4 linked regions of the Homo sapiens genome follow. The protein of the gene in region 1 purifies or fractionates together with the protein of each later gene. This does not show direct contact. Each region holds a gene or a part of one and is shown in the gene's direction. Other genes may lie near its edges. The genes, in order: NIPSNAP2, ATP1A1, HADHB and HADHA.

Region 1 (6,917 bases):
TGGCTCACGCCTGTAATCCCAGCACTTTGGGAGGCTGAGGCAGGCGGATCATGAGATCAGGAGTTGGAGACCAGCCTGACCAACACGGTGAAACCCCATTTCTACTAAAAATACAAAAGTTAGCCGGGGCGTGGTGGTGCACACATGTAATCCCAGCTACTCAGGAGACTGAGGCAGATTCTCAAGGAGAATCGCTTGAACCTGGGAGGCGGAGGTTGCAGTCAGCCAAGATCGTGCCACTGCACTCCAGTCTGGGTGACAAGAGTGAGACTCCATCTCAAAAAAATAAAAAATAAAATAAAATATAAATGATGTATAAGTACCATTGAAGTATTAAAATATGAATGATACCTAAGTACCATTGAAGCATTAAAATATAAGTGATACCTAAGTATCATTCAAGTATTAAAATAGAAATGATACTTAAGTACCATCGAAGTATTAAAATATAAATTATACCTAAGTACCACTGAAATGTTAACATATAAATGATACTTGTTTATATTTTAACACATACTTTTTCCTGAGAGTCTTTGTATAAAACTTATGCTCCAGGAAGACTTGCTATGTTTATTCTATGGCTTCAAATATCTGAAGCCACACAGCTGTGAAATCAGAGTACCCTCTTTTTCCCCAGTAAAAAGTCCTGAGTGAATGGAACTCCACAACAAAATGATAGTGGAGAAAAGCAATGCAGGCTAAGCAGGCTAATACTAAACACAAAAGCAAGGTCAGCAAAGAAGTGTCTAGCTACAGTTTATATTTCAGAATAAATTTAAAAGCAGGTGTCTCATGAAACAGAGCTGAGAAATTGGGGGCATTTGTGACAGTCACAGGAGCTCATCCACCCTTAAAGAGGCCTGGCCTCCTGCTCTGTAGGGCTGGGCCAAGTCCTTGATACCCTGGAGAGAGCTCACTTCTGCCTCTCTTTGGAGTGTGAGAAACACACTCACCCATTCAAACCCAAAGAATGGACTTAGAGGCATGAAGAACAGTGAAAGTGAGACTTTTTTTTTTTTTTGAGAGTCTGTCTTGATCTGTCACTGAGGCTGGAGTGCAGCAGTGCGATCTCAGCTCATTGCTGAGCTGAGATCACCTCCCAGGTGAATCTCCATCTCCCAGGTTCAAGTGATTTTCCTGCCTCAGCCTCCCGAGTAGCTAGGATTACAGGCATGCGCCACCACACCCGGCTAATTTTTGTATTTTTAGTAGAGATGGGGTTTCACCATGTTGGCCAGGCTGGTCTTGAACTCCTGACCTCAGGTGATCCACCAGCCTCAGCCCCCCAAAATGCTGGGATTATAGGCATGAGCCACCGCACCCGGACAAAAGTAAGACTTTTTAATAATGGTTTTGCAAGATCGGATGTGTGATGGGCAGGCACACCCAGTGCAGTTTCAACAATTTATCCCCTAGAGCACAGGTCCCTCCCCAGTTCCTCACAGGCTGAGTAATATGGGGTTGCAGTCTTCCTGGACATCACCTAAGTTCCATTATCCCCTTATTAGGTTACATCTTGTCCTCTTCCCTACTTGAAGTTTCGATTTCCCAATGGCTAAGCTTTCTTTCCTTTTATGGATTAGACACCCCTGCCACTTTTCTCCCTCCCCTCTGACTTCTGTGAGTTTTATCACTCTTCCCAGATGTCTGTACCCGTGCATCTTGTCACATCCACAAGGGAACTGCCCAGACTTGTCTGTTTTCTGAAAATGGACCACTTAAAAAGTACTTCTTACAGGGTTCTCCACAGCTTTACTAAGCATACACTAGTTGAGGCCAGGAGGTCCTCAGCCACACAGCCTCTGGCCTCCTATCCTTGTGTCCCTTGGCCTCCATCCCACTGGCCTCCAAGGGACAGGTGCCTTTCCCTGCTCTGGGGCAAAGCCCTCCTCCATCCACAGGGTCCACCTCTGTCCTCCCTGGTGGCTCCTTGCCATATTAACGTGTTCAAATTCTACCCCAGTCAGAAAACTGCACCCCTTGAGCCCTGATGCTCCCTTGGCCCCCAAGATTACCAGCTTCAGGGAACCTCCCAGTTTTTGTCCACCTTATGACCTCCAAGCAACCCAGTCCTGAGGGCACTTTCCTCTCTGCCTCTGCAGCCCCGCACTGGCCTGGAAATGCTCCCTTTGGTGGCCAGAGCCCCTACTTCTCCCAGGTTCTCCCCCACCCCCAGGGTCCAGCTTCCTTCCTCCTGCCCTCACCTTGGTTGCAGTTTTCATGGTTATATTTGTGGCTTTTTTCTTTTTCTTTTCTTTTTTTTTTTGAGATGGAGTCTCACTCTGTTGCCCAGGCTGGAGTGCAGAGGCACAATCTCGGCTCACTGCACCCTCCACCTCCCAGGTTCAAGCAATTCTCCCACTTCAGCCTCTCGAGTAGCTGGGATTACAGGCACCCGACAACATGCCTGCCTAATTTTTGTATTTTTGTAGAGATGGGATTTCACCATATTGGCCAGGCTGGTCTCGGACTCCTGACCTCAGGTGATCCGCCCGCCTCGGCCACCCGAAGTGCTGGGATTACAGACGTGAGCCACCGTGCCTGGCTCATTTGTGGCTTTTTAAAAAATCTTCCTGGAGGACACATTTTTCCCTCTATAGCGCCAGCCACCCAGATCCACGCCTTTGCTTAAGTTATTTCCTCAAGACAGGGATGCCCTCCCTTCTTCCCCTGGGACTGATATGTCCTGCCAGCTCCTTGGAGAACTTTCTCCCCATCTATCCTCTAATTCACAGCCACCCCCGGTTACATGCTCTCTTTCCGTGCCTCTTTCGTGTCTCATGAACCTGTCCATTTTGACACTTAACACACTCGGTCCAATCATCATTGTACATTCTGTCCCCACTAGACCCAGACGGCCTTGAGGGTAAGGTACCAAGGACTCCCCATGGCCAGTGCCCACCGGTGCTGAAATGAATGGGAACGATGCAGTCCCAAGACCTCAAGAGAACCTTCCCAGTCCTTTCTCCTTAATTTTTTTTGTGTGTGTATGGTGTTTTTTAATTTTTTCCTCACTTGCTTTCTTTTCTTTTCCTTTCTCTCTTTCTTTCTTTCTCCTGCCTCCCTCCCTTCCTTTCTTTCTCCTTCCTTCCCTCCTTTCTTTCTCCTGCCTCCCTTCCTTCCTCCTTTCTTTCTCCTTCCTTCCTTCCTTTCCCTCCCTTTCTTTCTCTCTCTTTCTCTCTTTCTTTCTTTCGCTACAGGACGTCGTGTGTTTGCCCAGGCTGGAGTGCAGTGGCACGATCATAGTTCACTACAGCCTCCACCTCCTGAACTCAAGCGATCCTTCTGCCTCAGTCTCCAGTGTAGCTGGCATCACAGACGTGCTCCTCCATGCCCGGCTAATTTAAAAATGTTTTTGCACAGTGAGGGCTCGCTATGTTGCCCAGGTTGGTCTCGAACTCCTGGCCTCAAGAGATCTCCGGCCTCAGCCTCCCAAAGTGCTGGGATGACAGGCGTGAGCTATTGCGTCCGGCCCCAGAATGCACTTGTTAAAGCGTTGTGGGGCTTTTTGAAATGACAATATATTCATATACTACAAAATTTAAAAGACATTGGCGGGGTGGGGTGGGGGTAAACCCACTGCCACTGCCCCGCCCCAGGCCCTGGATTCCCCTAGGCACAGTGTTACTCTTTCCTTTTGGAGTTTTCCCTGATCATTGAAGTTATGCCCTTGTCCCTTCTGCACCCGCGCTTCTGGGCACCGAGCTCCTCCCGCTGAAGTGATCGGCTTGCACTGACTGCGCTTGGGCTTCGCGCTTTCCCGCAGCGGCCGGGCCTTGGCGCCTGGACGCCCCGCCGACCCCCGCGGCCGCGCGCCCTGCTCCCCCTGGCGGCCGCGCCCCGCACTGCAGTGGCCGCGTTGGGGCCCGGCCGGGGGAGGGGTCGCGCGGCGGCGGCGTCAGCGGCGGCGCCCGGGCGGTGGGAGCCGAGGCGCCGAGCAAGATGGCGGCGCGAGTGCTGCGCGCCCGCGGAGCGGCCTGGGCCGGCGGCCTCCTGCAGCGGGCGGCCCCCTGCAGCCTCCTGCCCAGGCTCCGGTGAGCAGCGCCGCCCTTCCCGGGAGGTGCCGGGGAGGGGCCGCCGCGAGGCGGAGGGCGCGGGTTTCCCGGCGCCGGTCTCCGCCCCGGCCCTGTCCCCAGCGCGGGTGGCTGCCCGGCCTCGGGGCAGTGGGGCCGGAGCTGGGGTGGGGCCGGAGCTGGGGCGGGGTCGGGGCGTCCTCGGGCTCAAGGTCACGGAGGGGACGGGCCGCTCTGCGGCTCCACCCTCGCCCGGGAAGGCCCCCGAGGCTTGGCCCGGAGGCCACATCCTCCCCGCGGCGCTGGCCCGGCCTGCAGGGCCCTGACCGGCGCGACCCGTGGCCAGGGACAGGGACAGCGCGCGCCTGAGGCCGCAGGCCCCGGACGCCGTCTGCTGGGTCCTCGCCGGAGGCTGTTCCAAGCCTGAGTGGCTGCGTCTGCCGAGGACGTTGGTGACCCTGGTCTCTGAGGTGCCGGGAGTAGGGAATAAAAGAGTAAAGCATTGTCCCGGGCCAGCTCTCCGCGGAGCGTAGGGGAAGTTAGAGCTTGGAGGAGGTCAAATCACTTAACGTCTTGGAGTTGAAATTTAAAGCCGGCCGTGGATCTAAAAGTACTTAGAGTTATCAGCACTAAGTTCAGGCGTGGGGCTCTTGTTTAAACTTTTTTTTTTTTCTAACTTCAGTGGATTGGACGTTTGGTTGTCCAAATTCATCACCTTGATATTTGCATGTGCTGTTTTCCACATTCAAACAGCAAAGCCTATCCTGACTTACCCAGAGTTGCTTTCTCGTATTCATTGCTTTGGGTAGTTTAAATTACCTAAGGAACTGTGTGTTAAACTCGCCATGGGCCAGGGAGGTTTCAGTAACATGGTTTATTATTATTATTATTGTTGTTGTTTATTTATTTATATTTTTGAGACGGAGTTTTGCTCTCGTTGCCCCGGCTGAAGTGCAACGGCACGATCTTGTCTCACTGCAACCTCCGCCTCCCGGGTTCAAGTAATTCTCCTGCCTCATCCTCCCAAGTAGCTGGGATTACAGGCATGCACCACCACACCCGGCTAATTTTTGTATTTTTAGTAGAGACGGGGTTTCACCATGTTGGTCAGGCTGATCTCGAACTCCTGACCTCAGGTGATCCACCTGCCGCGGCCTCCCAAAGTGCAGGGATTACAGTCGTGAATCACCAGGCGCGGCCTGATCTTTTTAAAAAGATGAGTCTGACTTGGGAGAGGGGGCAGAATTAAGGGTAGTGGCCAGCTGAGTGGACCCTGGCACTGAGAGTTGAGAGTTTGCAGAGAGCTGTTCTGCCAAAATGTGAGTGCCTACCACGTGCCAGGCACTGTTGACTGTTGAGAGACATCAGTGAATAAGGCGTCCAAGGCCATCCGGAGCTTACCAGTAATTCAGGAGGGCTGGGGAAGAAGAATTCAGAGCAGTTTAGGACCTGGTAAAGTTTGTGAAGGCTGTGTGCTATTCAAGTGGAAACGCAAACAGACAGTTGGCAGTATGACTCCTCAAAGGAGGTGTCTGGGCTACAGGTAACATTTAGGAGTTGTCAGTATATAGGAATGCTAAATGTTAATAGACACATGGATTTCATTATACTGTTTCGTATTTGATTTACGTTTTTCATAATAAAGCCTGGACGCAGTGACTCACACTTGTAATCCCTGCACTTTGGAAGGTTGCGGCAGGAGGATTGCTTGAGCCCAGGAGTTTGAGACCAGCCTGGGCAACATAGTGGAACTCTGTCCCTAATAATAAATAAGTACATAAATAAAAATTTGTATAATGAAACTTTTTTTAAACCATAGGAAGCCGGGTGCAGTGGCTCAGGCTGTAATCCCAGCACTTTGGGAGGCCGAGCTGGGCTGATCGCTTGAGCTCAGGAGTTCGAGACCATCCCAGGCAACATGACAAAACACATCTCTACAAAAAATACAAAAATTAGCCCGGCATGGTGGCACACGCCTGTAGTCCCAGCTACTTGGTAGGCTGAGGTGGGAGTATGGCTTGAACCTGGGAGGTGGAGGTTGCAGTGAGCCGAGATCATGCCACTGCGTTCCAGCCTAGGTGACAGAGCCAGACCCTGTCTCCAAAATAAAACAAACAAAAAAATATAGGAATGTGTGAGATTGCTTGAGGCGAGAGTGTGGAGAGAGAAGGGGCTGCAAAGCAAGTCCTGGGATGTGCAGCGTATATAGGCTGAATGTAGGAGGGGGAGCTGGCAAGCTCATTGTTATGTGGCAGTGGCCAGGAGGAGGGAGGGAGTGCCATCCGCTGCCAAAGTGTTAGGTAAAATGACAGAAGAAAACAGGATTTGCTGAATCAGTTTCAGCAAGGGAGAAGGGCGTCCTCCCGGGAGCCTCATCCCTGCCTGTACATTAGCCAGCGTATTTCACTTAGTGCTGCTCAGCAGCAAGCTTGGAATTCCCAGCCGCTTCCTGGACATTGCATAAGTGTCTCACAGGTGCTTAAAACACTGCTGTACCCAGGATTTAACTCCTCTTCCTTCTGTGAAGCCTGCTTTTCTTTGGTTGTTCTTCTCCAGTCATGAAACATTTTCCATGTGGTGGCCCAGGCCAGACACCAGATGGTCTTCCCCAAGCCCATCCCTCTTTTTCCCGCCATCTATCATTTACCAAATCTGTCAGTTCTGCCTCTAGTATGTCTTGAATCCACCCTCTCCATCTTCACTGCCCTAGCTCAACCCTCAGCAATACTCGTCTGGATTCCTACGAAGAGTGTGGGCTCGAACCTGTTAGTGAAGGGGATGACTAAAGAATTTTTTTTTTTCCTTGGAGATAGTCTTGCCCTGTTGCCCAGGCTGGAGTTTAATGGCATGACCACGGCTCACTGCAGCCTTGACCTTCCGGACTTAAGGGATCTTCCCACCTCA
Region 2 (7,053 bases), on another chromosome or scaffold:
ATAATAGCAAATTGGTTTTGTTTTAAGGTTTAGGGCCCTTTCACCCTATGTTACGGTTAGAGGAGGGTTTGGTCTTGTATCAGCTCTGCCACTTTCTAAAACTTGGTTATATTTCTTTTTTTCTTTGATGGAGTCTCGCTCTGTCATCCCGGTTGGAGTGCAGTGTCATGATCTTGGCTCACTGCAACCTCCACCTCCTGAGTTCAAGTGATTCTCCTGCCTCAGCCTCCCAAGTAGCTGGGATTACAGGCCCCAACCACCATGCCCGGCTAATTTTTGAATTTTTAGACCACCATTTTGGCAAGCTGGTCTCGAACTCCTGACCTCAAGTGATCCACTCACCTCAGCCTCCCAAAGTGCTGGGATTACAGGCATGAGCCACACACCCAGCTAAAACTTGGTTATATTTCAGCATGTCTAATAAAGATAGGGAAAGGAAGAATACAGACAGGCCTGCCTTAGAGATCATCATGAGCCTCAAATGAGATAAAATATATGAAAATGCTCTGTAACCTGTAAAGTACTGAACACTTAATAGCTTTTATGTGCTGGGGAAAATTCCTTCTTTGTTTTGTTTACAAAGTGATCTGCATAAGAATATCCCCTCTTGAGGTGATGGACACATGCTGGTGATGTGATGCGTGACTTTTTTTTTTTTTTTGTCCTAATTCTAGGGATGCCAAGGCCTGCGTAGTACACGGCAGTGATCTAAAGGACATGACCTCCGAGCAGCTGGATGACATTTTGAAGTACCACACTGAGATAGTGTTTGCCAGGACCTCCCCTCAGCAGAAGCTCATCATTGTGGAAGGCTGCCAAAGACAGGTCAGCCAGCACAAGGATCAGGCTGCTTTGGGCACTATTGGCTTTAGGGATTGGAGTTCCAGTGGAAACAGAGCAACGGTGATGGATGGATGCATACCTCGCTGTATTAGACTCAGTATAAATAGGCCAGTAGGAAGCTCATAGGCATAGAGAGGGTGACTTGTTAATGGTTTAGCAGTGACAGAAGCACTTTAAAGTCCAGGTGTCCACTGTGTCCCAGAGCCTGACCGCTCCGTGGAGTCATCTGATATGGGGTCCTAGTATTTGCAATAGAGATGTGAGTGGTCAGACTACAGGGCGTGCATACAGGAATGGCATTTTCTGGAGTGCCACCCACCAGAGTCATTACTTTGAGTAGCTCTTGTTAATGCTGGGGGCTATGTTTGTTGTCACTTCTCAGTTCTGTTATTTGGTGTAGGGCCTGTGTGAATACTTGCCTGTGACGGTTCTCAGGCTTCATAAATAGTCTCAATAGGAAAGGAGCAGTGTCTGTAATGAGTGCTCAGTGGGGGCATGCATCGCACTATTTCCATCGCTAGGAAAAGTGATTGGTATTAACCCGTTTTCCCTTTTCTGGGGTAGGGTGCTATCGTGGCTGTGACTGGTGACGGTGTGAATGACTCTCCAGCTTTGAAGAAAGCAGACATTGGGGTTGCTATGGGGATTGCTGGCTCAGATGTGTCCAAGCAAGCTGCTGACATGATTCTTCTGGATGACAACTTTGCCTCAATTGTGACTGGAGTAGAGGAAGGTGAGAGCTATTTAAGGTGTACACCAAGATCTTATTCAGATACTGCCCATTAGCATCCATTTCTGTATACTTCTTGGATATGTTCAGTTTCCAGTGTGCTTGTCTCATAAGCTAACAGTAAAAAATCTTGGTTTTCATAGGTCGTCTGATCTTTGATAACTTGAAGAAATCCATTGCTTATACCTTAACCAGTAACATTCCCGAGATCACCCCGTTCCTGATATTTATTATTGCAAACATTCCACTACCACTGGGGACTGTCACCATCCTCTGCATTGACTTGGGCACTGACATGGTGAGTGTCACAACAGTCACAGATCGATAGTAGTGAGGTGTGAGCTGTGTCTTCATTCACTGGCACTATGCTCCCAGCATCCATGAGGCTGGCGTTGGGAAAAGAAATTCTCAGGACCAGTATCCAGTGTGTGTCCCAATCCCGGCTTCACAGAATCAGTATTACCACTCTTCAAGGCAGCAGTTAACATTTGTTTATCAGATGGGAATCTTTATTTTTGTATACTTCACCTAAAAGATTTTTAAATGGGAGGGCAAGAATTTTATAACAAAAGGTTCACAATATTAGCTTCCTTATTTTTAGTAACTAAATTCCTTCTCCCCACCCCTTCCCAGGTTCCTGCCATCTCCCTGGCTTATGAGCAGGCTGAGAGTGACATCATGAAGAGACAGCCCAGAAATCCCAAAACAGACAAACTTGTGAATGAGCGGCTGATCAGCATGGCCTATGGGCAGATTGGTAAGCTGCAGCCTGGAGTGGGAAGCTGGCACATCTAAGGCATCTGAGGTGATGGTGTCCACCTCAGGTTGAGGTTGATTTCAGAGACTGCAAATCCAGGCGACTTTCAGGTCTAGGATGAGCCCTAACGGAGTGAGCCTGTGGAGTTTCTCTGAACTCTCTTCCATGTGAGAATACATCTGTTGCTGTTTGCCCAGTTACCTTTTGTGGAAACTGGTTTTCTATACTGAGCACCTTGGAACTGGGCTCAACTCTGCCTGAGAAATGAGGATGTCCTTCCTCACTGAGCCTTGCGGAACAGGAGGCATGGTTCTAAGGAATTGTGTGTACTGACGCACAGGCTGCTTTCCCTGGAGATACACACTTATCTGTCACTCACTTGGATGGAGTTAGGCATTGGAGAAAGTATATGTGTTTGAGAGTTTGGCTGGTAGGTCACCACCAAAGGGTGATCCTCCATCCACCTCACACTGGACTTCTGCCCCCACAGTGCAGCATGACTAGCTAACAGGTGATCCAGGTGGTGGGCAATCAGCATGCCATTTGTTTTTAAATCCTCTGCCTAGGGTTCCTTCAAGAGAACCTGGCAAAGCCACCATGGATGTCTTATTCTCCTGGATTAATGGGTCACATAACTGTGAACGCTTGGATAAAGAAGAACAGATTAGATAGAATATTGTGGAAATTATGGCAAAGATTCATTAGACAGTTGTTGGCAACAAAGTAATTGGCTGGTGGCCCATCCTGACCTTCTCCAAGGAGGCCTGCTTTTGAGAGGAAGGAAGACTAGGTCTCTGGTGGTTTAGGATGAAACCCTGCCCTGAGGAACTTGGAGCAGCGTGGTTAAATTGGATGCCAGGGGGAGGAGGGTCCTGAAGGTGGGGAGGAGAGTCAGAAAGTGCCACAGTGGCTAGAAAAATGGCAGCATGTAGGAATTTTGAAAGATGGAAAAGAAGTTATCATTTGTCAGAGATTAAAAAGTAGGGAAGTGGATTTCCCCTAAAGGTCATACCCTTAGAAGCAGCTGGTCAAGTAACAGGTGGGCATTTTGAGAGCAAGGCACATGTGTCTTTGTGTAGGCTCCAAAAAGTGACTCAAAAAGCAGAGGGCCCTGAGATTGGAGTGTATGCCTGGGGTCCTCCATCCCATCCCTCATAGCCTGTGAGTGACCAGGCAATTCTTTCCTGTGCTTTTATCAACCAGGGGGAAACACTCCTCCATATGTGCTCTCCCAGGCCTGCTGCAGTAATCAGCTGAAGGCTATACAGGTACCCTTGTGTGTGAGGTTCTAGTAATTGGGTTGTTTTCCCAACTTAGGAATGATCCAGGCCCTGGGAGGCTTCTTTACTTACTTTGTGATTCTGGCTGAGAACGGCTTCCTCCCAATTCACCTGTTGGGCCTCCGAGTGGACTGGGATGACCGCTGGATCAACGATGTGGAAGACAGCTACGGGCAGCAGTGGGTGAGTGGGCACCTCTGACCTGACCAGTGTCAGAGCTCCTCAAGCCCCAGAAGACTGAGGCCACACTGCCACCAGCCATGCAGGTGAAGAGCCAGAGCTCATCTTCTGTCTTCTGCATTTCAGACCTATGAGCAGAGGAAAATCGTGGAGTTCACCTGCCACACAGCCTTCTTCGTCAGTATCGTGGTGGTGCAGTGGGCCGACTTGGTCATCTGTAAGACCAGGAGGAATTCGGTCTTCCAGCAGGGGATGAAGTAAGTAATGAAGGACATGTCAAGGCCTTGGCTCAAAGAAGGGGACTGGTGATTTGTAAACCCTTTGCCAAAAACTAAACATATGACACATATAGCCAGGTTTCTGGAATCTCTAGTTTATAGAGCAAATTTAGGAAGCAAGAAATGTAGCTTTCTAGTTTTTTCATCTGACCTCCAAGTTTTCAAGTACAGCTAATACATAAAGATGTTGATCTGCCATTTTAATGCATAGCATTAGAAGATAAACCTTTATTTGCACCTTTTAAGTTTTTTCTCCCCTACTTTGATTTTAGGAACAAGATCTTGATATTTGGCCTCTTTGAAGAGACAGCCCTGGCTGCTTTCCTTTCCTACTGCCCTGGAATGGGTGTTGCTCTTAGGATGTATCCCCTCAAGTAAGTTGATCCTCTGGTAGCTCCAAAAAGTATGAAATAGTATGTGTGGCTTTTCCCCCCATTACTTGTGGTAATAGTTGTTATTTTCAGAATTTTGAGTGGTATGTACAAAAATTCCTATGGGTTGGAAAACTGTGAAAGCTTGACATGTCAGTAAATCAGACTAACAAATCCTGAGGCTTCCATGATAGCAGCTAGTGTTTAGGATTTGGCCCAAGATAAGATAAAGCCACACAGGCTCTAGCTCCATGGAACTGCTCAACAGCGAACTGCATTGAGCACTCAGGTCTGCCACAGCTGTAGTCCAGTTGTCTTTAGAGGCCAACTGGGGGTATGCTGGAGCGTAGGCGCCCAGGCTCAAATCTTGATTTGCTTGCTTAGTCACTGTCCCATTACAAGTCATCCACCTTTCTGAGACTCTGAATACTCTGCTCTCAAAGAAAGAAGGTTGGAGAAACAGATCTGAGGTCCCTTTTACTTTATAATCAGTCATGGGTAGAGTTGATCAAAGGAAGCATACTGCTAGTCTTTGGCCTTAAACACAGTGAATGACTCTGCATTTCAGATAAACTTGAATTTTCAAAGAGGGTTTATCACAAACTCCGTTAGTTTTTTGCAACATTGAGTATGTTTGGTGATACCTGGTTGAGGTTAAGCAACTGCAACTTGATTAAAACGTGCAAAGCCACAGATTGTGGGACCCATTTACAAGTTCCTTTGAAGCTTTTGATTTAAAGCATTAGTCTCCTTTGAATTCCTGCTGTCCTCATCCTTGCTCAGACCCGTCTGGACCATCTCTCAATCCCCTGTTGCCAGCACTTCCTTCAGCTCATCTTATCCCTAAAGTAACCAAAACCCATCAGCCTCATTCACTTCCTGTGGGTTATGTGCAGACATCGTCTGTGGTGCAAGATGAGACTGGCATCCAGAGTCAGTCTCATTGTCCCAACCTGTCTTTATAGCTTTCTCTTGTACCCCTTACCCATCCAAGCTCATGTTAGGTGAATTCGGCTTTCTTCCTCTGCCTTTGTGTTTGGTAAGATCCTTCCTCCCCACATCCCTCCTTCTGTTCCCTCTTACCCTGCCAATCCTGATAGTCCCTTCAGGGCCGGTTTCCTTGGAGCTTGTCCCTCCAGGGCCTGTGCACTTGCACCTCTTCTCTGGCATTACTTGTTGCTTGTCATTTCACCTCCCTGCTAGGTTTTAATCTAGAAGGCATGGGCCACAGTGTCTTTCTTCTCTGTGCATCCCCAGCTCCCTACACAAAGCTGGTGTACAGCAGGGGCCAGCCATCTCCAAATTGAATTCTGTCAGCTTGGGCCATTATGTATCAAGATGGGGCTTGGAGAGGTCACAGAGCTTTCCAAAAAGGCTGGTGGAAAATTACACTGAAAAGGGGGCATTTCCATCTTCTGGGTCCTTCCCTGGTTTTTTTGCCACCACCAAAGAGATTGTTCTGACAGGTTCTGCCCAATTTTGGAAGGTGGTTCAGTTATTCGGTGACTGAGTCAAATGAGATCATCTCTCTTAGCTGCCTTGTCAGACACACAGGAAGAAGAGGAGACCACCGGAGTCCTGCCCAGGGACAGCCTTTCTCACACCATAGCAGGGAGCTGGTGATCACGGAGGCTGCCTGGAGCCTGTCAGCAGGCTAGAGACTGTGTGGCTCAGCCTCCAGGCCCCTTGGAAGCCTTCGGGCTCAGCTTTTTTCAGTCCCCAGGACCAGGCCTCAGAACACAGAGCTGATATCCCAAATGCTGTTGTCAGAGATCAAATTTGGGGAATGCATAAACTGGTTTTGACCCACACTGGCAGGTCTTTATCTTCAAAATGCTGGGATATTAGGCAGATGGTCTTAAAAAGCTTCTTAAACACTTTAGAAATGAAAGAAAGAAAATGTTCAGTTGCTCTGGGATGGTTAACAGAAAAGTACTCTGCTCATCCTATAAACCAAGTCTTATGAAATCCAAACTGAAGATGAGTAGGGATTCCATTACAAAGTCTGCAGACTGATTTCCTCTGCGTCTCTAGGCCCTGGGCACATGGAGTAGCAATCTGTTTTAAGACATTTTTATTTGTTCTGTTAATGACTCAGTAGTTAACTGTGACTGTACTTGGCTTCTCCTTTCAGGCTGATTATTTCATTGTCACTGGTGATGTGCAATTTCTCTTTCTTTATTTGAACTGTGTTCGTGTGCATATAAATTGGTACCTTACTCTATTTCCAGACCTACCTGGTGGTTCTGTGCCTTCCCCTACTCTCTTCTCATCTTCGTATATGACGAAGTCAGAAAACTCATCATCAGGCGACGCCCTGGCGGTAATTATGGGCATTCTGACTTTGGTTGGAGGAGGAGTGGGAGGGGCTATAGTTCTATTGGTTTTTTGTTTCCCTCAAGGTGTCTAGGCTCCCTCAGTGGTCAGTCTGATTAGCTAAGGTGACTGGACCAGCAAACTGACCATAGTCACATCTTCAGAATGTAGATCTCAGTTACAGTTTGAGGACTGGTCATGTTTTAGACTTTAAAATACAAACCAAGTATGATTTAGTGAAAACTTGTCAGAATCTAAACCATCTTTCCAGGTAACTTGGTATTCCTAAAAACATGTA
Region 3 (7,000 bases), on another chromosome or scaffold:
ATGCATAAGTAAAATGCTTATTTTAAAAAAATTAAAGAGAACAGAAGAATATTAAATAAAAGCCTTTCTTTATCCTTCCATGTCTAGACTCATAGCTTCAGGGACTTTCTTTTCTCTTTCTCTCTTTCTGTCACAAAATGGTTGTTGTAGTAGGGTTTACTTACCCATTTCCCTATTTTCCAGTTATTCTAATCTATTATTCTAATTTCTAATACACATTGTTCTGTAGCTTGCTTTTTCATTTAATATATATTATGGACATTTTTCCATGTCAGTATATATACATGTACATCATTTTGTTTCATTTTCTTTTCCAAACTGCCAAACAGTATTCCATGGTGTGTTTATACTATAACTTACTTAACTGTTTCCTACTGATGTGCATTTAGATTAGTTACGGTTTTCCACAAATATAAACAGTGCTATAGTGAACACCTTGAGTATTTCTTTTTTTTTTTTTGAGACGGAGTCTCGTTCTGTCTCCTAGGCTGGAGTTCAGTGGCGTAAGCCACCACCCCTGGCCCACCTTGAGTATTTTACGCTAGAGACCTATATATGCTATACATACATTTTGAATATTTCTATAGGTTAGAGACCAATAAAAGGCATTATTGGACTCAAAAATTCACATTTTAAATTCTGATCTATAACTACAAAATTGTCATCCCAAAAGGCCTTAGCATTTTACATGTCTTCTAGTGTATGGAAGTGCCTATTTAGTTAGATGCATTCTTACTAGAATTATATATTAACCATATTTTCAATGTTTGCCAATCTGAAAACCACAAAATGATACCTTGCTTTGATTTAAAAAACAACAACAACAACAACAAAAAGGCTGGGCGCAGTGGCTCATGCCTGTAATCCCAGCACTTTGGGAGGCAGAGGCGGGCGGATCACCTGAGGTCAGGAGTTCAAGACCAGCCTGGCCAACATGGTGAAACCCCATCTCTGCTAAAAATACAAAAATTAGACAGGCGTGGTGGCACGTGCCTGGAGTCTCAGCTACTCGGGAGGCTGAGGCAGGAGAATCGCTTGAACCCAGGAGGTGGAGGTTGCAGTGAGCCGAGATCGCGCCATTGCACTCCAACCTGGGGGACAAGAGTGAGACTTTGTCTCAAAAAAAAAAAGAAAATCACAACTTTTTGTTAGTGAGGTTGAACATTATACATTTTGTTTATTTGGCATTTTAATTTCTTCTGTGAATGGCTTGTTTTCTCATTCTTGCTTTTGGTCATGTATCAGGAAGGAGTCTTTCAGTTGCAAATAACAGAAAATTCAAATCAAATTGGCTTCTTAAAGGGGATTTATTAGTCCGGGCGTGGTGGCTCACGCCTGTAATCCTAGCACTTTGGGAGGCTCAGGAGTTCGAGACCAGCCTGATCAACACGGTGAAATCCTGTCTCTACTAAAATAAAAAAAATTAGCCTGGTATGGTGGTGTGCGCCTGTAGTCCCAGTTACTCGGGAGGCTGAGGCAGGAGAATTGCTTGAACCCAGGAGGCAGAGGTTGCAGTGAGCCAAGATCGCGCCGCTGTACTCCAGCCTGGGCGACAGAGTGAGACTCCGTCTCAAAAAAATAAATAAATAAATAAAGGAGATTTATTGGCTCACAGAACTGAAAAGCACAATGAGAGGTTGGGTTTCAGATGGGATTCGGCCAGGACTCTTCTTTTTCCAGAATTCTCAGCTCCGTACTCTTCTGCTTGTTTGGTGTTAGCTCTATCTTAGCCTAGCTTTGTTAATGTTTGCAAATTGCTGTAGCCATGCCAGGCCTCAGAAGGAAAGATTTGTGTTCCAGAATTATAGGCAGAAGACTTGAGTGTTAAACTGATGAAACCATCCACAAATCAATACCAGTGGTCAAGGCAATGCCGTGCATGGTTGTTTGAGGCCTTGGTACCTGAATCAATGATCTTGGCAGAGAGAATGAGATTATTCTGATTGGTTTAAACCCTGGAGTTGGGCTGGATTCAATCCCATGTAAGCCACATACAGCAGCTACATTTGGGTGGAATGGATATTAGAGTACAAACTACAGATTCCATGATAGATTGTTTCTGTTTTTCTTTTTCTTTCTTTTTTTGGAGATGGAGTCTCGCTCTGTCGCCCAGGCTGGAGTGCAATAGTATGATCTTGGCTCACTGCAACCTCCGCCTCCCGGGTTCAAGCGATTTTCCTGCCTCAGTTCCCAAGTAGCTGGCTTACAGGCATGTGCCACCAGGCCTGGCTAATTTTGTATTTTTATTAGAGATGGGCTTTCTCTATGTTGGTCAGGCTGGTCTTGAACTCCCAACCTCAGGTGATCCACCTGCCTGGGCGTCCCAAAATGCTGGGATTATAGGCATGAGCCACTGCGCCTGGCCTTATTTTTCTTATAATTTGTACAAGTTCTTTATGGATTATGGGTATCAACCCTTTTCTGTTTTACATGTTACAAATATTTTCTCTGAATCTATTTGCCTTTTAACTTGATTTTAGTATATTTTACTATGTGTATATTTTGAATGTTTATATGATCAGATCTATTAGTTATTATTTTCTGTTGTACTTCTGGGTTTTGTGCCATATGTTGAAATCCCTTCTCCATCTAAGTGATAAAAATATTCTCTGAGGCTGGATATGGTGGCTCATGCTTGTAATCCCAGCATGTTGGGAGGCCGAGGTAGGAGGATTACTTGAGGCTAGGAGTTTGAGACTAGCCTGTCTCTAAAGTTTTTTTTTTTTTTTTTAATTAGCCAGGCATGGTGGCATGTGCCTGTAGTCTAAGCTACTCAGGAGGCTGAAGCAGGAGGATCCCTTGAGCCCAGGAGTTCCAGATTGCAGTGACCTATGATCATACCACTGCACTACAGCTTGGGCAACAGAGCGAGACCCTGTCTCTAAAAAATACATACACGTGTGTGTATGTATATATTATATTCTCCGATGTTTTCCTCTAGTACTTTTATAGTTAGAATATATATATTTAAAATATATACATTTAAATATTTAATCTGTCTGGCATTTATTTGTGCTTTCGCTGTGAGCTGCGAACCTAAAATTTTTTCCAAATGTTTAGCCATTTTCCCAGTGAATTCATGGAATAATTTCTTTCTCTCAGCTAACTCAAGTGTTATATTTATTATACACTAAATTCTTACATACATGGGTCTGCTTCTGAACTGCTACATCCTGTTTTGTTGATCAGTGTCGTTTATTCCTGTGCTAAAGCTGCTCTGTTTTAATTATTGGTTCTTTCTAGAAAGTGTTTTGTTTGTTTTTTTTTGAGACAGGATCTTACTCTGTTGCCCAGGCTTGAGTACAGTAGCGTGATCATGGCTCACTGCAGCCTCGAACTCCTGGCTCGGGTGCTCCTCCCACCTCAGCCTCTTGAGTAGCTGCGACTACAGGCACATGCCACCATGCCCAGCTAGTTTTTTGTATTTTTTGTAAAGACAGGGTCTCACTAGGTTGCCCAGGCTGGTCTCAAACTCCTGGGCTCAAGTGATCCTCCCACCTCGGCCTCCCAAAGTGCTGGGATTACAGGTGTGAGCCTCTGTGCCTGGCCTAGAAAGTTTTGTTATCTGTTGCAACAAGGTTCCCCCTTTTGTTTTTCAACATTTTCTTGACAATTTTCATGAATTTTATTTCAAGATGAACCTTACGTAAGGGAACTTGTAGCCCAGACCCTTGTGGCATTGTAAGTAGCTTCTGAGTGGTGCCTCTCTCATGGGCCTCTTTGTGTTTCTCTGGCCAGAGTCCTTTGAATATCCCTAGGCTGGTGATCCTAAAGCTTGGGCTTCTCCATCTCTTTCCAATCCACATGTTTGGAACATGTTTTGTTTTTTTCTTTTCGGAAGCTATAGGACCTCCTTCTTTTAGTCTCTAAAGACCCAAGAGAAGTTAAACCTTAAAGCTTTTGTATTATCTATTTCTGTGTAGCCAATTACCGCCAAATGTAGCAGTTTAAAACAATACATGTTTACCATCTCATAGTTTCTGAAGGTCAGGAATCAAGGGCACTTTAGCTGGGTTGCTCTGAGTTTCCCATAAGGTGGCTGTCAGAATGTTGGCAGGGCTGGAGTCAGCTGAAAGCTTGCCTGCGCTAGAGGCTCCGCTTCCAAGCTCACTCACATGGCTGTTGGCAAGAGGCATCAGTTCCTCACCACAGGAGCCTCTTCATAAGGCTGCTCAGGACATGCCACCTGGCTTCTCTCATAGTGGGTGAGCTGAGAGAGAGACCACGACAGATGCTGCAGTATCTCTTATAGCCTATCTCAGAAGTGGCATACCATTACTTGTAACATACTTTTTGGTTTATACATTCTGTGATATGGAGAGGGAGGCAGCTAGACAAGGATGTGAATACCAAGAGGTAGAGATTATTGGGGGGCAACTTGGAGGCTGGCTACCAAAGTCTTTGTTGGTAAATCTTGTGGGATTTTTTTGGTTTTGATTTTTTGTTGTTGTTGTTAAAACATGCTTCAAAATTAAGAAATTATAAAAGGTGTGTGATGACAAGTCTTCCACCCCTGACCCCTAGTTACCCAGTTCCCTTTCTTCCAGCCAACAATTATTTTTAACATCTTTATTATACTTCCAGGGGGATTTTATACTGATACAAGGAAATGTACATAATATTTTTCCTCTTTTAACATGAATGATAGCATGCTGTACAGCTATTTTGCACCTTGCTTTCTTCACTTAATGATACAGCTTAAAATGGTTCCGAATTGGTGCATAATCATTTCCTTACCTTTTACAGCTGCATAGTATTTCACAGGGGTGTTGTAGCATGGTTTACTTACCCATTTTCCTATTTTTTGGTTATTCTAATTTTTGACTATTACAGTAACAATATGGATTATGTCCTGTGTGTGAGTAATATCCATGAAGTCAGTTCATGGAAGTGGAATTGCTGGTTCAAACATTAGTTTCAGTTATAGTTTTCATGGATAATTACCAAATTGCCCTCCCCATGGACTGTGCCAGTTCTCTTGGCAGCAGTATATGAGAATATCTATTTGCACATACTCTTACCTACACAGAGTATATATCAAACCTTTGAATCTTTGCTACTTTGAGAGACAATTATATCTGTGGTTTTAATTTGAATTCTTCTTATGAGTGAAATTGAACATCTTTTCATATACTTAAGAACCATTTGTATTTCCTTTTCTGTGGTCTGTTCATATTCTGTGCCTATTTGTCTGCTAGTGTTTTCCTTAGTAATCTGTAGGAACTCATTGTTAGAAATTTAGTCTTTTTTGGAGGGGTGGGGGAAAGTTGTTAATATATTTTACATATTTTTTAACATATAGGGTTATTATATGTTTTACTTTTTTATTGTTTTGAAACAATACAGTATCAAACTTTGAAAAAGTTGCAAGTGCAGTACTACAAACTTTTTTTAGTAGCAGTTGAGATTAAGTTGCTGACATGATGCTTCACCATCCCTATTTAGTGTATATTCCCTTCAGATACAAACATTCCACAAAGCCTTCTACATAATCATAGTACAGCCTTCAGAATCGTGAAACTAATACTAATGGTTTTATTATCACGCCTAGCAGTCTCTCTGCTTCTTTGACCCTAAAGGAGAGGAGCACACACTCTAGAGGTAGACTTCCTAGGTTCAAATTCCAGCTCTGGGCCTGGTGCGGTAGCTCACGCCTGTAATCCCAGCACTTTGGGAGGCCAAGGCGATGGATCACCTGAGGTCAGGAGTTCGACACCAGCCTGGCCAACATGGCAAAACCCCATGTCTACTAAAAATACAAAAAATTAGCCGGGTGTGGTGGCACGTGCCTGTAATCCCAGCTACTCGGGAGGCTGAGGCAGGAGAATCGACTGAACCTGGGAGGCAAAGATTGCAGTGAACCGAGATTGCACCACTGTACTCCAGCCTGGGCAACAAGAGCAAAACTCCATCTCAAAAAAATAAATAAATAAATAAATAAATAAATAAATAAATAAATAAATAAAAATTCCAGCTCTGCCACTCACTAGTTGTAGGTCTTTTGGCAAGTCACTCAATCCTACTATGCCTCAATTTCCTTATCTCTTACAAAGGATGTAATAATCATGCCTCCTTTGTAGGTCATTGTGAAGATTAGATGGTTAATGCTTAGAATAGTGGTTGCTGCAATGTGAAAACCATGTTGGTGTTCCTATCATAATAATATTATTAGATGAAGAATAGTTGATAAGATTAAGTTTTAATGTTTTCTAGTAGCCATGGATGAGGTTATCAGAGTTCATAGACTACAATGTAAACTACAAATTGTTCAGCTAATCCAGGATATACTTTTGTTCTTCTCTTTTTAGATTCCAGAATGACTATCTTGACTTACCCCTTTAAAAATCTTCCCACTGCATCAAAATGGGCCCTCAGATTTTGTAAGTTTATTATTATTTTTTTATTTTTAGAGATTGGATTTGGATTTATAAACATCTCGCACAGATACTGAATGGTATTGCTTTTTGTAAACAGTTTATTTTGTCTTCCAGCCATAAGACCTCTGAGCTGTTCCTCCCAGCTACGAGCTGCCCCAGGTACAGTAATTTGTAAAATAAATATTTCTGATTTAAATGTTAGATTCCAGATTCTATAGTTTGTGAACTCTGAATAAAAACCAAAACTAATTTGCTAATTCTCCCCTTTTTATGAGCACATGAACATCTCTGTTGCCTTCAAATTAAAAAATTATAGGTCCAATCAATAATGATACTACATTATTTAGGATTAGGCTTGAGGATGTTAATGGGAGGCTGTTTTCTGGGATTTGAACCTGCTGGAGTCATGGAGGTTCCATAAACCTCGTTGGTCAGTTTATTTATCCTCTTGCTGTCCGTCCTGGAGGTGAATGGCATACAAATGCTCTTGAGACCTGCTATGGAACCAAAAGTTAACTTTAAATTTGCAATTTGTGAAATGCTTCTCTATTGATGAATATCTTCTTCTCCCATGTGCAAGAGGGCCCATTCCTGAAATAGAAGTGATTAGGAACTAGTTAATA
Region 4 (6,924 bases), on another chromosome or scaffold:
TGTATAGCATATATAGGTCTCTAGCGTAAAATACTCAAGGTGGGCCAGGGGTGGTGGCTTACGCCACTGAACTCCAGCCTAGGAGACAGAACGAGACTCCGTCTCAAAAAAAAAAAAAGAAATACTCAAGGTGTTCACTATAGCACTGTTTATATTTGTGGAAAACCGTAACTAATCTAAATGCACATCAGTAGGAAACAGTTAAGTAAGTTATAGTATAAACACACCATGGAATACTGTTTGGCAGTTTGGAAAAGAAAATGAAACAAAATGATGTACATGTATATATACTGACATGGAAAAATGTCCATAATATATATTAAATGAAAAAGCAAGCTACAGAACAATGTGTATTAGAAATTAGAATAATAGATTAGAATAACTGGAAAATAGGGAAATGGGTAAGTAAACCCTACTACAACAACCATTTTGTGACAGAAAGAGAGAAAGAGAAAAGAAAGTCCCTGAAGCTATGAGTCTAGACATGGAAGGATAAAGAAAGGCTTTTATTTAATATTCTTCTGTTCTCTTTAATTTTTTTAAAATAAGCATTTTACTTATGCATAATTCTAGTTTTATTTAAAATCTATATATACTGTTGTTCCTCAGTATCCAAGGGGGATTGGTTCCAGAACCCCCCTCAGATACCAAACCTCAAGGATGCTCAAGTCCTTTACATAAAATGGCATAGTATTTATTTGCAAAGAACCTACACACATCCTCATGCATACTCTAAATCATCTCTAGACTACTTACAATACCGAATGCAATGTAAATCTATGTAAATAGTCGTTATGCTGTATCGTTTAGGGAATAATGATGAGAAAAAAAGTCTGTACATGTTCAGGACAAATGAAACCACTGTAGGCCTAACTACATTTTCACTCAGACATTGGTTGAATCTGAGGATGTAGAACTCACAGATACCAAGGGCCGACTGTACATCAATATCTTATATAAATATATACAAATATACAAATGCATTTTAAAAAGTCCAGAAAAATACACATCAAAATGTTAAAAGTAGTTATCTCCGGGTGGTGGAATTACAGATTTTCTTTAGACTTTTCTGTAGTTTCTGAATAAAAAATTACATGGAATATGTATTCCTTCAATAGTTAATAAAAAATAGAGATTTCAAAAGTAAGAGGGACTAAGCAAATTATCCTATAGCAGAGCTGACCTTTCTGTCATTTGCTAAACTTCAGAAAACAGAAATTTTGGTAAAAATATTCAAAGCATGGAAACTCCAGGGTAGGGTAGGGTAGGATCGAGTTGGTTAGGGTAAGCCTGAGTAAGGTGTGAACTATGGAAAGATACACGAAGCTGCAGGCACCTGGGAGCAAGGGAAAGGAAGAAGAGTCTAGGCAAGTAATGAAAACAAAAGCAAGATGGGGTGGCTCTAACAGCTCATTATTACAACTTTGAAACACAACGTAATGGTTAAGAGAACTAAAGCCAGACTATGTCCAAATCCTGATTCACCCTAGCTGTATGACTTTAAGCCAGTTACTTAACCACATAGGACGCGCACGCGCACACACACACACGCACGCACACCCACGTGCACACACCACTTAAAACAGTGCTTGATACACAGTTAGGGGTATACCTGTGTTTGCTATTACCAGTAGAGATGGTGATACAAATGTACTGTTTCCCTCTATATAAACCATTGGACTAAAGTGCTTAGGGATCAAAGAAACATTATAACATTTCTGCCCTGATGGAGCTTAGTTTTGTAGAGAAAGCACAGGGAGCAAAAAAATGGAGCCAAATGAGTGATCTAAATCAGGGATTGGCAAACTACAACACACGGGCCTCTAGCTAAAAATAGTTTTTCACATTTTTAAAGAGTTGTAAGGTCGGGCGTGGTGGCTCACACTTGTAATCCCAGCACTTTGGGGGGCAGAGGTGGGCGAATCACCTAAGGTCAGGAGTTCGGGACCAGGCTGGCTAACATGGTGAAACCCCGTCTCTACTAAAAATACAAAAAATTAGCCCGGCGTGGTGGTGTGCGCTTGTAATCCCAGCTACTCGGGAGCCTGAGGCAGGAGAATCACTTGAACCCGGGAGGAGGCTGCAGTGAGCCAAGATCGCGCCACTGCACTCCAGCCTGGACAACAAGAGCAAAACTGTCTCAAAAAAAAAAAAAAGTTGTAAACAAAACAAAACAAAAGAAACAATATATAACAGAGACCAAAGTGATCCTGCAAATCCTGAACTATTTACTGTCTGGACCTTTAACAACAACAACAAAATTTACCACTTCTGACCTAAATAATAAGTGTTACACGCAGTTAGGTGTTGAAGAAAGCATTACATGGGCAGGAGGCAGGCTCTGAACTGTAAAAACCTTGTAAGATTATCAAGAATCCTTTTTGCAATTTATTCAGAAGTGGTCAGGTCATCCAGTTTCTGCTTAAAGTGCTCACATGATGAGCACTCACTATGCAACTTGAGCTTTAAACAGAAACCTCTCTACTCTGTCTCTATACTCATTTCAGTCTTAACTTCGATGCCCCTTGTTTCCTGTCCTGCAGAGCTGTCAGTCTGGCGAGTAGTGAGACTCAGACTTATGTCTGAATGCTAGGTCTGTCACAGACTAGAAAATGTATATATTCTGAGCTTCCCAAACTTCATCTAGAAAATGCAAATGATAATAATTTGGGGAATGTGAGGACTAAACAAAAAGGTATGAAGGTGACCAGAGCACAGCAGGCTCTCAATGTGACTTCCTTTTGAAATCAATCACTTTATTCCAGGACTCCAGCCCATCATTCCAGCACAAAAACAGCTACCATGCAATGAAGAACTCTTCACTAGGAGTTAGTAGACTTAGGCTCCAGTCTTATTTCTACTACATATGGCCATGGGTAAAATCACTCTCTCTGATTCGTAGGCAGTTTCTTCACCGCTTAAGTGAGCTGAGGTGTGAACGACCAGATAGATAATCATCCAGATCGGAAAACCCCCGAGAGCGCAGGATTATCTGGATAACGGAGCCGGATGGAGGATTGTCTCCGTTCCTCCCACACTCAAGCCCCGAAAGGTCACCTGACCTAGTCTTATTCTTTACAGCAGAAATCGGGCAAACCCATGGCGCCGTCCACAATCTCTATAGCCGCCGACCTGGGTACAGGGGAAGCAGGCGAAACAACACACACTTCTACGCAGACCAGGGTTACATTAAGGCCGACGCCCACACACGCCCACACACACCCACACACACACACACACCCCCACACCCCCAGACTTCGTTAACTTGTGATGATAAATTAGGGCGCAGGTGACACTACTGTCCCGAACTTCAGCTGGAACGCTAGTCCAAGTCACTGTCCTAACTGCAGCTAGCACTGCCGACCTTGTCCGAGGAGTTTCCTTCCGCTCCCTCAACTCCCACTTTCCCAGGGAGGGGAGGGGGCCGGGGGCACCGGCGACAGTTGCGGGGAAGGAAGTGGAATCTCGCCTTTGGGAAAGCCCGGGCGGAGAGCTGAGGGCTCGCCGTCTCACCTTGGCTGACGTCCGCGAGGACTCCCTCTCGGAGCAAGGTTCAGGTCCAAGTACCAAGGCTCTGCGGGACCAAGGGGCGGGTCCTGCCCAGAAAGGGCCCCTCACCCCGCGGGCGGTCAGGGCCGTTCTTGAGGGCTGCCCTCCGGCCGCCTGACTGGAAAACCAGGCACTCCACCCCCTCCTCTCCGGGCCCCCGTCCTCCCCCGGAGAATACGACCTTTCGGCCATGTTAGCCAGGAGCGAGGGGCAGGGCTAAGGGGCCGGCGGCCACTCGGCATCTGGGTTTTAGTCAGGCAGTGCTCCAGGCGCCTGGCTGCCAGGCTACGGGAGAAAAGTCCTCCGCTCGGCCGCACCCGTTAGAGGCGCTCTCCACTGCTGTCCTCTTCAGCTCAAGATGGTGGCCTGCCGGGCGATTGGCATCCTCAGCCGCTTTTCTGCCTTCAGGATCCTCCGCTCCCGAGGTGAGGCCTGGCCGAGGGCATCCCAGACCTCCGGGCAGAACTCCTGCCGGGACTGGGGTGGCCCCGGAGCCGCGTCTCCCTTTCGCTGCCGCCTGCCCCAGCCCGGAGACGCAGCCCTCTGTGGGGATACTGCCCTGGGACCCGGTTTCCCGTGACCTTCTGAAGAGACTGTCACTTCCCCTCTCACGACTCCTGCGGCGATTTCAGGCTTCCTAACTCCCCAACTTTCTGAGTCTGGTGCCACTCGTTCTGTCACCTTTCCGCGGGTCTCTTGCGTCGCACTTCTGGGCTCACGCCCCTCATATTTTCTTGATCCGGAGTTCCAGGAGAATCGGGATCCATTCTGTCGCATCTTTGTGGCTCCACAGCACCTTGCCCCGCAACAAGAGCTGTCTTAAAAACAGCACCTTACCCCGCAACAAGCGCTGTCTTGTATGGGATTAATCAGCCTTGCAGATCACTGCCCCTCCCTGCTCCGTTCCCTCAAAACCATTTTTGTGCTTACTACCCCAATCAAGTAGGGAGCTCAACTCTTGCAGTTTCAGTAATGTCAGTGTGAACGTATAGTATTTTGAATTTCAGCGGGAAGTTCTGCAACTTACTGGAAGACACACTTTAAAAATACGCTAATACCTCTACCTTAAGCAATAAAATGTTAGATCGTTCTGAGAACGATTTGTAATCTGATGATTCCCAGTCAGCCTGTATTAGCTAGTGTTTTTCCTTTTCAAACTGGCAGTGAAAGGGTTAAAGTGGGTGGTTGTAGGAAACGTTGCATTTTCTTTCCATCCCAAATCTGTAAAGTCAAAAGTGGACAACGTTTTATTGCATGTTGTGCTTAATAAGTTACTTAACTAGAAATTTTAACTTTTAATTTAATTTGTAATATGAATTACCTCTCTTCCCTCTTCCGGAACCGCTGAAGTAGTATGCTTTTTTTAGACAAGTAGCTGAAATCCCTTACTGTAAGGGGATTTTTTTAATGATTGAATATTTTTCTGCTCCCTTTTTTCAACAGCTGTTTTTAGTCTCCACAAAACTGTAGCATGTATTTGCCAATTATAACATAAGCACATTATAGAACATTGAAATGCTGTAAGGATTGAGGAAAGAGATGAAAAAAAAACGAATCACCCATTGTCTTACTACTCATATGCTTACCTACGGTTAGCCTTCGGTTATGTTTCCTTACAGGTTTGGTGGTTTTTTTCCCCTATTTTCACAACACTTTTGAAAAGTAACGTGTAATTTTTATCTTACCCCTGCATTGGTTTGAAGGTATTTCTTATGGATCGGCAGCTGATGTCACTCGGAAGTGGTAGCCAGGGCACGTGGTTCTAGTCACTAGCTGTGTTACTTTGGACAAATGCCTTAAACTAAATGGGCTTTATTTTCCTCATCTGCAAAATGAATGATTGAGATGATGGATTTCCTTTGCATGAGAAGTAGCATGACAGAGCAATTAATAAACATTGTTTGGGCCGGGTGCGGTGGCTCACGCCTGTAATCCCAGCACTTTGGGAGGCCCAGGCGGGCGGATCACGAGGTCGGGAGATCGAGACCATCCTGGCTAACACGGTGAAACCCCGTCTCTACTAAAAATACAAGAAATTAGCCGGACGTGTTGGTGGGCGCCTGTAGTCCCAGCTACTCGGGAGGCTGAGGCAGGAGAATGGCGTGAGCCCGGGAGGCGGAGCTTGCAGTGAGCCGAGATCGCGCCACAGCACTCCAGCCTGGTCCTCCGTCTCAAAAACAAACAAACAAACAAAAAAAACATTGTTTGGAGTCTGACTTCTGGGTTTGGACCTGGCTCTGCCTTTTACCCTCTGATGACCTTGGGCAATTAATTTCTGTGTTTGTTTTCTCATTTGTAAAATGGGGAATAATACCACCTTGTGTGATGAAAAGGAGTTATTTTAGATATCAAGCAGTTTTTCATGGAGTAAGCACTCAGTAAATATTATTAACTCCAGCCTGGAAGAAATACGATTGTATATATCTGAGAGTTTTTAAAAGTAATTTGTACATCTTATGTGTGTAATAAAAAGCTACCAACCTAATTTTTCTGTTTTCTGTATAGAAATATATAGACACATAAATATATACTTTGCATTGTGTTTTCACCAGTAAGAAAGTATCATTCGTTGTAGTTACTGATCCCTTAATAGCAATTTATAAATTTTGAAAAAAAGTCTGGAAAGTGAATTTAAAATGACCTGCACCCTTATATTACTATTTAGACTCAATAGATCCTTCACAGTAAAAGTCTGTGCAAGGCTTTGCCAAACATTTAATGAGATTATGACCTTTGCTGGTGGATGATAAAATTCTCTTGAAAGGGGCCAGGCACGGTGGCTCATGCCTATAATCCCAGTATATTGGGAGGCCAAGGCGGGCAGATCACTTGAGGTCTAGCCTGGCCCACATGGTGAAACCCCATCTCTACCAAAAAATACCAGAATTGGCCAGGTGTGGTGGCACACGTCTGTAATCCCAACTACTCGGGAGGCTGAGGTGGGAGAATCGCTTGAACCCAGGAGGTGGAGGTTGCAGTGAGCCAAGATCACACCTGGAGGACAGAATGAGACCATATCTCAAAAAAAAAAAAATTATCTTGAAGGAGACTTGTAATTCTTGAAATTTTAAAGCATTCCTTCTCTACAAGTGCTATAATTCTGAATGTGAATATCAAATGAAAATCACTTCTTGACCAGAGTATGTTGTCTAATTCCCACTCCTATCCTAAATCTAAATTCCTAATTAGGTATTTAGTAGTAAATAGGTATTAGTAGTAAAATAATTTCACAGGAGATGAATTTAGAGGCAAATACCTTAATAGATGGTTTTTTTGTTTGTTTGTTTTTTCGGTTTTTTTTTTGGAGACGGAGTCTCACTGTGTCACCCAGCCTGGAGTGCAATGGTGCGCTCTTGGCTCACTGCAACCTCCGCC

The links.
Region 2: the proteins of NIPSNAP2 (region 1) and ATP1A1 purify together in Homo sapiens (affinity purification with mass spectrometry; 2 studies listed by BioGRID, with this or other methods). This does not show direct contact.
Region 3: the proteins of NIPSNAP2 (region 1) and HADHB purify together in Homo sapiens (affinity purification with mass spectrometry; 2 studies listed by BioGRID, with this or other methods). This does not show direct contact.
Region 4: the proteins of NIPSNAP2 (region 1) and HADHA purify together in Homo sapiens (affinity purification with mass spectrometry; 3 studies listed by BioGRID and IntAct, with this or other methods). This does not show direct contact.

The regions. Positions count from the first base shown.
Region 1 is NC_000007.14:55,960,668-55,967,584, forward strand, and holds the start of NIPSNAP2 (protein NipSnap homolog 2), read left to right. Parts: upstream 1-3,917; 5' UTR 3,918-3,942; coding exon 3,943-4,034; intron 4,035-6,917. UniProt on the Homo sapiens protein: Protein involved in mitophagy by facilitating recruitment of the autophagy machinery required for clearance of damaged mitochondria.
Region 2 is NC_000001.11:116,397,214-116,404,266, forward strand, and holds part of ATP1A1 (sodium/potassium-transporting ATPase subunit alpha-1), read left to right. Parts: intron 1-674; coding exon 675-825; intron 826-1,407; coding exon 1,408-1,576; intron 1,577-1,716; coding exon 1,717-1,871; exon of another isoform or gene 1,872-2,101; intron 2,102-2,206; coding exon 2,207-2,330; intron 2,331-3,647; coding exon 3,648-3,793; exon of another isoform or gene 3,794-3,916; coding exon 3,917-4,047; intron 4,048-4,340; coding exon 4,341-4,442; intron 4,443-6,670; coding exon 6,671-6,762; intron 6,763-7,053. UniProt on the Homo sapiens protein: This is the catalytic component of the active enzyme, which catalyzes the hydrolysis of ATP coupled with the exchange of sodium and potassium ions across the plasma membrane.
Region 3 is NC_000002.12:26,247,939-26,254,938, forward strand, and holds part of HADHB (trifunctional enzyme subunit beta, mitochondrial isoform 1 precursor), read left to right. Parts: intron 1-6,308; 5' UTR 6,309-6,316; coding exon 6,317-6,380; intron 6,381-6,491; coding exon 6,492-6,536; intron 6,537-7,000. UniProt on the Homo sapiens protein: Mitochondrial trifunctional enzyme catalyzes the last three of the four reactions of the mitochondrial beta-oxidation pathway.
Region 4 is NC_000002.12:26,241,580-26,248,503, reverse strand, and holds the start of HADHA (trifunctional enzyme subunit alpha, mitochondrial precursor), read left to right. Parts: upstream 1-3,871; 5' UTR 3,872-3,907; coding exon 3,908-3,974; intron 3,975-6,924. UniProt on the Homo sapiens protein: Mitochondrial trifunctional enzyme catalyzes the last three of the four reactions of the mitochondrial beta-oxidation pathway.